2 linked regions of the Homo sapiens genome follow. The protein of the gene in region 2 interacts with the protein of the main gene of each other region in a pairwise test. Each region holds a gene or a part of one and is shown on either strand. Other genes may lie near its edges.

Region 1 (3,647 bases), on a different chromosome or scaffold from region 2:
AAGGCTAATGTTGTCATGAGAGCAATTCTCCAGAAATTAGACTGTAAAGTCAATGCAATTCCAATCAAATTTCCAACAGGATTTTCTTAGGAACTTGACATACAGATCCCAAAATTCATATAAAAGAACAAATATCCAAGAATAGCCAAGACAGTTTTTTGAAGAACAAGCAGAGAAGGATTAGTCTACTAGATATCAAGGCTTATTATGAAGCTAAAAGAGCAAGCTGTTGGTGCAGAGACTGACAAAGAGACCAATGACACAGAAGCAAGCACCCAGAAACAGACTTGTGCACATGCAGAAACCAGCTCAGGACAGAATCGCATCACAAATCAGTGGAGAAAAGCTAACACATTCAGCAAACTTTGTTGGAAAATGAGACCATCGTTGTGGGAGAAAAAACTGAAACCCTCCCTTGCAAGCTACACAAATTTTAATTCTAGATAAATTAAAGACTTAAATTTGAAAAGCAAAACTTTTAAAAATTTATAAAAAAAATAGAGAAGAGTATCTTTCTGACCTTGAGTGAGGTAAGCAAGGATATCTCACTACAGAAAAAGCACAGATCATAAAGGAAAAGACTGACATGTTTGACTCTTTCAACAGTGAAAACTTCCATACAAGAACTACAACGTTAAAGACCTGCCACCGACACGGAGAAAATGTTTGTAACACAAATAATAGACAAAGGATTTGTATCTAGAACACATACAAAGAAGCCCTGAATCAAGAAGAAAATGAAGAATATCTCAATAGAAAAACAGAAGACAACTCACTGGAGAAGCAGCCAAATAATCGTATAAAAAGGGCGTGCAACTTAAGGGGGAAAATACAAGTTGAAACGAGAGGCCATCTCACCCCCATCAGGTCGGCAAAAATGTAATTATGGAAACTGGGCAGACGTTAGGAAGCAAGTTCTAGGAGCACCCGCTGGCACTGGGTACCCCTGGGGAGGGCCATACAGTAACGGAAGAGATGAAATCAAGCCTACGACGTGGTGAGGCCACCGCTGGGTCTACTCCCTGGAGCAGCATCCCCACAGGGCCACAAAAAAACAGGCGCAAGAACGCTCACTACAGTATTGCTTGTGAGAGTGAACAATCAGAAAAAGCTTAAGTGCCAATCAGTGGAGGAATGGAAAATAAGTTACAATATAGTTGCTTCTGGAATATTAAGCATCTGTTAAAAGGAATGAACTTGATCTACATGTATCAACATGGATAAGTCTGAAATACAGAATAATGAGTGATAAATATAATGACATCTATGTAATTTTTCAGAACACAAAAAACCGTATTATATATTGTTTACAGCTACCAAAGTACACAGCAGACGTTTTAAAATGTGGATAGAAAGAATAAACAGAAAATTCCTAGGGAGGCCTGGGAGACCTAAAAAGGAATTTAAATGCTATCAGAAATACATTATTTCACACACACACACACACACACACACACACACACACACACACGTTTTAAATTTTGAAACAGCATACATTCAGCAAATAGTTATTGAATTCCTACTCTGTACTAGGCAATACTCTAGGTTCCTAAAATGATTAAACAGGTAAAAATTTTTATACTTTTGAAATTGACATTCTAATGGAGGAGACCTGACATACGATGAATCTATAAATAGGAAACATATATATTATGTGACACTGTCTAACACGGAAGACCCAAAGCAGGAAAGTAGGCCTGGAGTCCTGGGTGGGGAGGGCCTGCAGTGCCGATGACACGAAAGGCCTGCAGGTGGGACCTGCCTGAGGAGGATTCCCAGTAGAGGGCACTGCGAAGGCCCTGGCACAGGGCGGAGGGAACAGCACCAGGGAACAGCACTCTGCAGCTGGGCAGAGTGAGAGAAAAGTGGAGGTGGTGAGCTGACGGTGCGGGTCAGATGGAAAGCCAGGACTTGGGTCTAAAAGGGATTACTCTGCTGGGCTGAGGCAAGACTGGGGGATCAGGGCAGGAGGAGAGGGGCTGGCAGGAGATGACGGGCCTACGTGGCAGAGTAGAGGGGACAAGGCCAAGTAAGAAGACAGACCATTCAGGACCACGGAGGGCCCTGGTAACCGAGGTTGGAGAGGTTTTGGTGGAAGGGGTAACAGAGTGGGGGGGAAGGTGCAGGAGACAGCAAGCGCAGATGTCCCCAAGGGCTCTGCCACAAAGGGGAACAGACAAGCGGGCAGTGGCTGCCGGGGTAGAGGTCAAGGCAGGATTGCTTGTATTGCCCTTGAGAAGATGGCATGAGGTGGGATCTGGTGCCAGATCGAAGTGGGGCTTTGGCTGGAGGGTTGACAGTTTAGCAGTCACAGAAGTGAAGGCAGAGAAGGGGGCACTGGTGCAGGCAGATGGCGTGGAGAGGGCTGTGTGAGTGGTGCGTTTCTCTTTTAAAAAACGGGTTAAAATATAAAACTGTTCTCAGCTGTGCACCATACAGAAACAGATGAGCTAGGTTTGGCCCTCAGCCACAGTTTGCTGGCCCCTGGGCTAAGGAGACACGGTGTGACTGTGTGGCAGAGCGCCCACTGAAGTCGCTGGTCATGAATGTCACGTGACACCAGCAGCCAGCTTACCTGGTTCTCTGCAGCCACGTGCAGCTGCTTGGCTGCAGGTGCAGAACACCGATGGATTTCACTAAGTGGATACAATGAACAAAACAGGGGCAAGAGTGCTGAGGGTGTGTGTAAGGGGGGACCACAATGGTGGGCATGGAGGGAAATGAGGATGAGTCAGGGCAGTGAAAAGGCAGCAGGGTCGATGGCTTGCAGGTCTTGAAGGACTGGAAAACTGCTGGAATCAGGACACCAGACGGAATTGAAGGGACGGCAGGAGGCGGCCAGGGAGTGGTGTGCTGGAGATGGAGATGGTGGGTATGGTAAAGTCACTGTCGTCACAGTCACGGATGGCTGTGGGATGGGTTGGGGGGGCACAGGACAATCAACAAGGAGGCTGCCATGGCCAAGACTGAGGGCAGGAAGAGTGTTGAGAAGAGAGGGAAGGTCTGCAGAAGTAGCAAAAAGACAAGGCCTGGGACCCAAAGGCAAGGTCTCTAGAGAGGGATTGAGGCTGGCAGAGGCACAATCTGAGGGGTGAGGACCCTGTCCCAGTGGGCCTGGGCTCAAGACAGAGGCAGGGAAGAGGATGACAAGCACTCAGAGGGCTGCAGTCCCCTGGAGCTCAGTCCGAGCAGGGAACACTCAGGACCTGGCGGGTCTGCTGAGCCCTGAGTCCCACAAGGCTCAGTGGAGGGATGTGCAGGAGGTGAGGAGAAGGGGAGGTGAGGTCTCACAAGGGGATGGGTCAGGCCAAATGTGGCAAGGGATGAGCTGGGAGTCCTGGCTTCTCAGACAAAGGGGACAGGGATAAACGCCACACAGATCCCTGCCAACAGGCTCAGGATGGACAGTGGAGTTTGTGTCTACTCATCTTGTCTACTGGTGGGTAGAGGCCACGGATGCTGCTGAACATCATACGGTGCAGCTAGAGAGTGTTACAGGGTCTTACCAGCAACCAGCGTATTTCCAGCCCCTCTTTACTCTCATTGAATGATGCTGTGGAAGTGAGGGAAGCCTCCACACATGGTGTAAATACAACGAAACCCACCCACCCAGAACCTCCCACCCAGGCTAGGAAGCTGGGGACGCG
Region 2 (3,747 bases):
GAGCCAAGATCGCGCCACTGCACTCCAGCCTGGGCAACAGAATGAGACTCTGTCTCAAAAAAAAAAAAAAAAAAAAGAAAAAGAAAAAAAGTTGGCCCTAGTTAATACTGTCAGTTCAGCCAAATATGAGTTTATGGGTGTGTGCGTGCACACACAGACACACACACTCTCACACATTTTCACGATTTATAGCCCCATGCACCCACTACTTTCGAAGCTTTGACTTTTAGAGAACCCTGTTCGTTAAGCTCACTTTCTCCTCGAGATTTTCAGCAGAGTAAGTGAGAGGACATTATCAGTTATCCTTGTTTGTAATTCAGTGCAATCTCTGTGGCCAGCTTTGCTTCATTAGCTCTTGAGACCAGATGATGAAATAAATGGAGGGCATAGGTCAACAGCCCTAGGTGTAGAAGGGTAAAGGGGGTGGTGTGCCTTTTATGAACGTTAGAAACCTCTCCAAGGTCCTGAGTTGGTTTAGCCGCTGTTACAGTTGCTCTTTTAAGTCTTTGAAGTGTCAAATGTGGAATAACTTTTAAACTTTCAGCTCTGAAGTGTTTTGATGAGAAGCATCTTGATTATCCCCCGTATAAGATTATACTTTATCTCTGTTATATCGCCAGCTCCCAGTACAATGTGTGGCTTAGAGTAGCGAAGTAGTAAAGCTCGCTTTGAAGAAGGTACTAAAAACTATGATTATTGTCACTACAGACCCAACATTCTCAGAGGGGGCTGGAGGATGGGCTAGCTTCGGAATCATGCCTTTGTTGCCACAAGTGGAGTTCATTAAGTGGCATATGTTTGCCTGTGTGTGTGCATGTGTGAAGAGAAACATTGTGTGTTATCAATAGTGTGAAGGCAACCAGCAGGAGCATCCTGAGAGGGACAAGTAAGGTGGGGGCTAGAGAGGACAGGTATATTTATTTTTTTAAATGGGGGTTATCCTGCCTTTACCTTCTAGGAGGATAATGTATGATGTACTAAAATCCCTGCCCTAGTATTTGTCACTAAGTATCGAAATGGGCGTGGTTTGGCATATAAGACACCTGCTCTTCGTGAGCCCTGCAAAGAGATACTCTTGGAGTCCTACCCTTACCCTGATTCCTCAAGTGCTCTGGAGGGTCCCCCAGTTCCAGCATCCTTTTTGAGAATCCTGCCGCCCGCCAGCAATGCTGCTCCGTGGACTTGAGAGGGCCTGCTGAGCATGTGTGAAGAGCGCTGCGCATGCTCCGTGGAGTGGGCAGGTTTACCGAGGCGCTAGCAGGGGCTTTTACTACTGTTCAGTCGCCTCCCCAGCCCAGCACGCCCCCCTCCCCTCTATCCCACCACCCACCACGCGGTCCCCCGCATCCACCCCGCCCCTCTATCCCGCCCCCTTCACCCCAAGCTGGGGAATCTCCATTGACGTTTGGGTGACGCCGCTGTGCCGCCGCCGTGGGGGGGTCCAGGCGCCGCACAGGTAACGCCGCCGCTGCCGCCATATTGACAGAGCAGGGAGCGGGGAGGGGACCCGAGGAAGTGGGGTGTTGGGGGAGTCACCACCGAGCGGCTGTCGTTGTGGTGGCAGTGGTGAGCGCGAGCCGAGCGGCAGCTCTTGGAGAGGCAGCACAGAGTTGTCTTCTCTATGGGAATCACCGGGCGGCGGCGGCGGCGACCCCCAGCTCCCAGCCTCTGAGAGACCCGGCGGCGAGGGCAGCGCTCGCTGAAGGCGGGGCTGGGGGTCGCGGCGGCGGCGGCGGCGGCGGCGGCGGCGGCGGGCCAGTTCAATAGACAGGATGCGCGGCCGCGCCAGCGGTAGGCGGCAGCTCCTGTTTGAGTGCTCCTGAAGGGGAGATGCTACCATTCGCTCCTCAGGACGAGCCCTGGGACCGAGAAATGGAAGTGTTCAGCGGCGGCGGCGCGAGCAGCGGCGAGGTTAGTGTGGTGGCCAAGACGGGCTGGAGCCAACCCCCGCCTCCTTCCCCTCAAGACCTTGGCTGGGGACGGAGAGAGGAGAGGCGTAGGGCCGGGAAGCGGGCTCCCGGGCAAGCCCCCTTGATGCTGCCTCCACTGCCCTTTCGCTGGGGAGCGGGCGGGGATGAGACGGCGGGCTCGGGCTTGCGGAGTGAGTGCAGCCTGGGCCCGGGCTCGGCCTTGGGCGGAGCGCCTGCCTGGCGGGCCACGCCAGAGTTGTTGTGACTAAGTTTCTTCACTTTCCGACCCGAAGGGGAACTGGGGGACTGGCGGGGTGCTGTGCCTGACTCCGCGCGTCCCTTTTTCTCCGCCGCGCCTAGTTTGCTGGCTGGGAACATTTTGGGGGACAGCTGCGGACTCCAGCTCGCTGTTGAACCCCGGACGCTTTACGAACCCAGTGCAACAAACACACCAAGGTGACTAAGTAACTCTGGGGACATTTGCACATAGGCACGAGTGTTCCCTGGTAACAGCTTTCTCGTTTCTCTGTGGCTTGTTATGGTTCCTTGTAATGACCCATGTCGAGATACACTGGCGACCTATCTCCAGTCGCCAGGTTTCAGGTGATGTTCTACTGCTTCCTCTCAGGTCCCCTTGATTCTACTGCACTCTTGCTCCACCCCTTCTCCTTTCCACAACCGCTGTCCCTGCCCCGTTGGTCTGTAAAAGAAGACGCAAAGTAAACCCCAGCCCTTATAAATAAGTCGAATCTTTGGTAAGACTTAGCGAGGTTCAACCAAAATACTTTGGTTCACCTCTCTTCCCACTCTTCTTACTCTGAAACTGTTCTGGTTGGGCTTTGGTCAGCTGTGCAGTGAGAACTTAGATGTACACAGGTGCTTTGTTTTTATTGTTGTTATAAAAGCGGGCAGCATTTAAACACAAAAACGTGTCTTTTGTGATAGAAAGTTGGATCCTTTTCTGATAACTTAATCGACTGCGTACTACTCCAGTAGAGGCCACCATACACCTCCTAAAAATAGTTGGTGAAATTGATTCACAGTAGGATATTTTGAGGTAAGACTCTCAATCCTCGACATCTAAAGGGTGCAACTTTGTCTTCAAGTACTTGCTCCATTTAAAAAAAATACACATTTGGCTGTTGTATGATTACCTTGTTTTTTTTTCTTTAAATTTTTTTGTTATTTATCAACTAAACTGGGGTTAAGATTACATGCTAGAATAACATGTGGTAAGGAATATAGTGGAAATAAATTCAGAAGTACCCTAAATCTGAACCCTCTATACTTACAGGAAATATTTTACTAGTAAACCAAGCAATTCCAATATACGTTTTAATATTTTACATCTCGTAAGAACAAGATAAATGAATAGGCGTTCCTTTCTTGTTGAAATGTGGGAATGCTAACTGTTTGCACAATTGTCTAGCAAGTCTATTGAAGGGGAGAGGAACTTTGTTATATTCATGTATGTAACTTACTGAACTTATAGGCATTTAGTTTATAAAAACAGTTAAATGCTTTGATATAAGGATGGGATGGGAGGTGGGAATCCTTTTGCATGCCTACTATTTTATTATTTCTGTTAACTTTGAATGTAGTATGTTTTAAATTGTAATTACCACATATGGTTTTTTTATTGTTTGCAGTATGTTTTAGGTATTGTAGAGATTTAACAATGGGTCTCTCTACCTCAGCAATTTGGAAAAATACTCGAGTGGAAATTGTTAATCCCTATGAAGTAAAACGAAAGGTGAAGGTAATGTGGTGAAGATAGTATTTCTGCCTTCTTTCTCTAAAACAGTTATGATTGGTTAGATTTAACCCTGCAAGTTAC

What was found. The genes of interacting proteins can lie anywhere in the genome.
Region 1: the proteins of RPS6KA6 (region 2) and ZNF746 interact in a two-hybrid assay, tested with the Homo sapiens proteins (one large-scale study listed by BioGRID and IntAct).

What each region holds. Positions count from the first base shown.
Region 1 is NC_000007.14:149,487,804-149,491,450, forward strand, and holds part of ZNF746 (zinc finger protein 746), read right to left. Parts: intron 1-3,647.
Region 2 is NC_000023.11:84,185,983-84,189,729, reverse strand, and holds the start of RPS6KA6 (ribosomal protein S6 kinase alpha-6), read left to right. Parts: upstream 1-1,530; 5' UTR 1,531-1,830; coding exon 1,831-1,911; intron 1,912-2,270; exon of another isoform or gene 2,271-2,366; intron 2,367-2,382; exon of another isoform or gene 2,383-3,537; coding exon of another isoform or gene 3,538-3,669; intron 3,670-3,747. UniProt on the Homo sapiens protein: Constitutively active serine/threonine-protein kinase that exhibits growth-factor-independent kinase activity and that may participate in p53/TP53-dependent cell growth arrest signaling and play an inhibitory role during embryogenesis.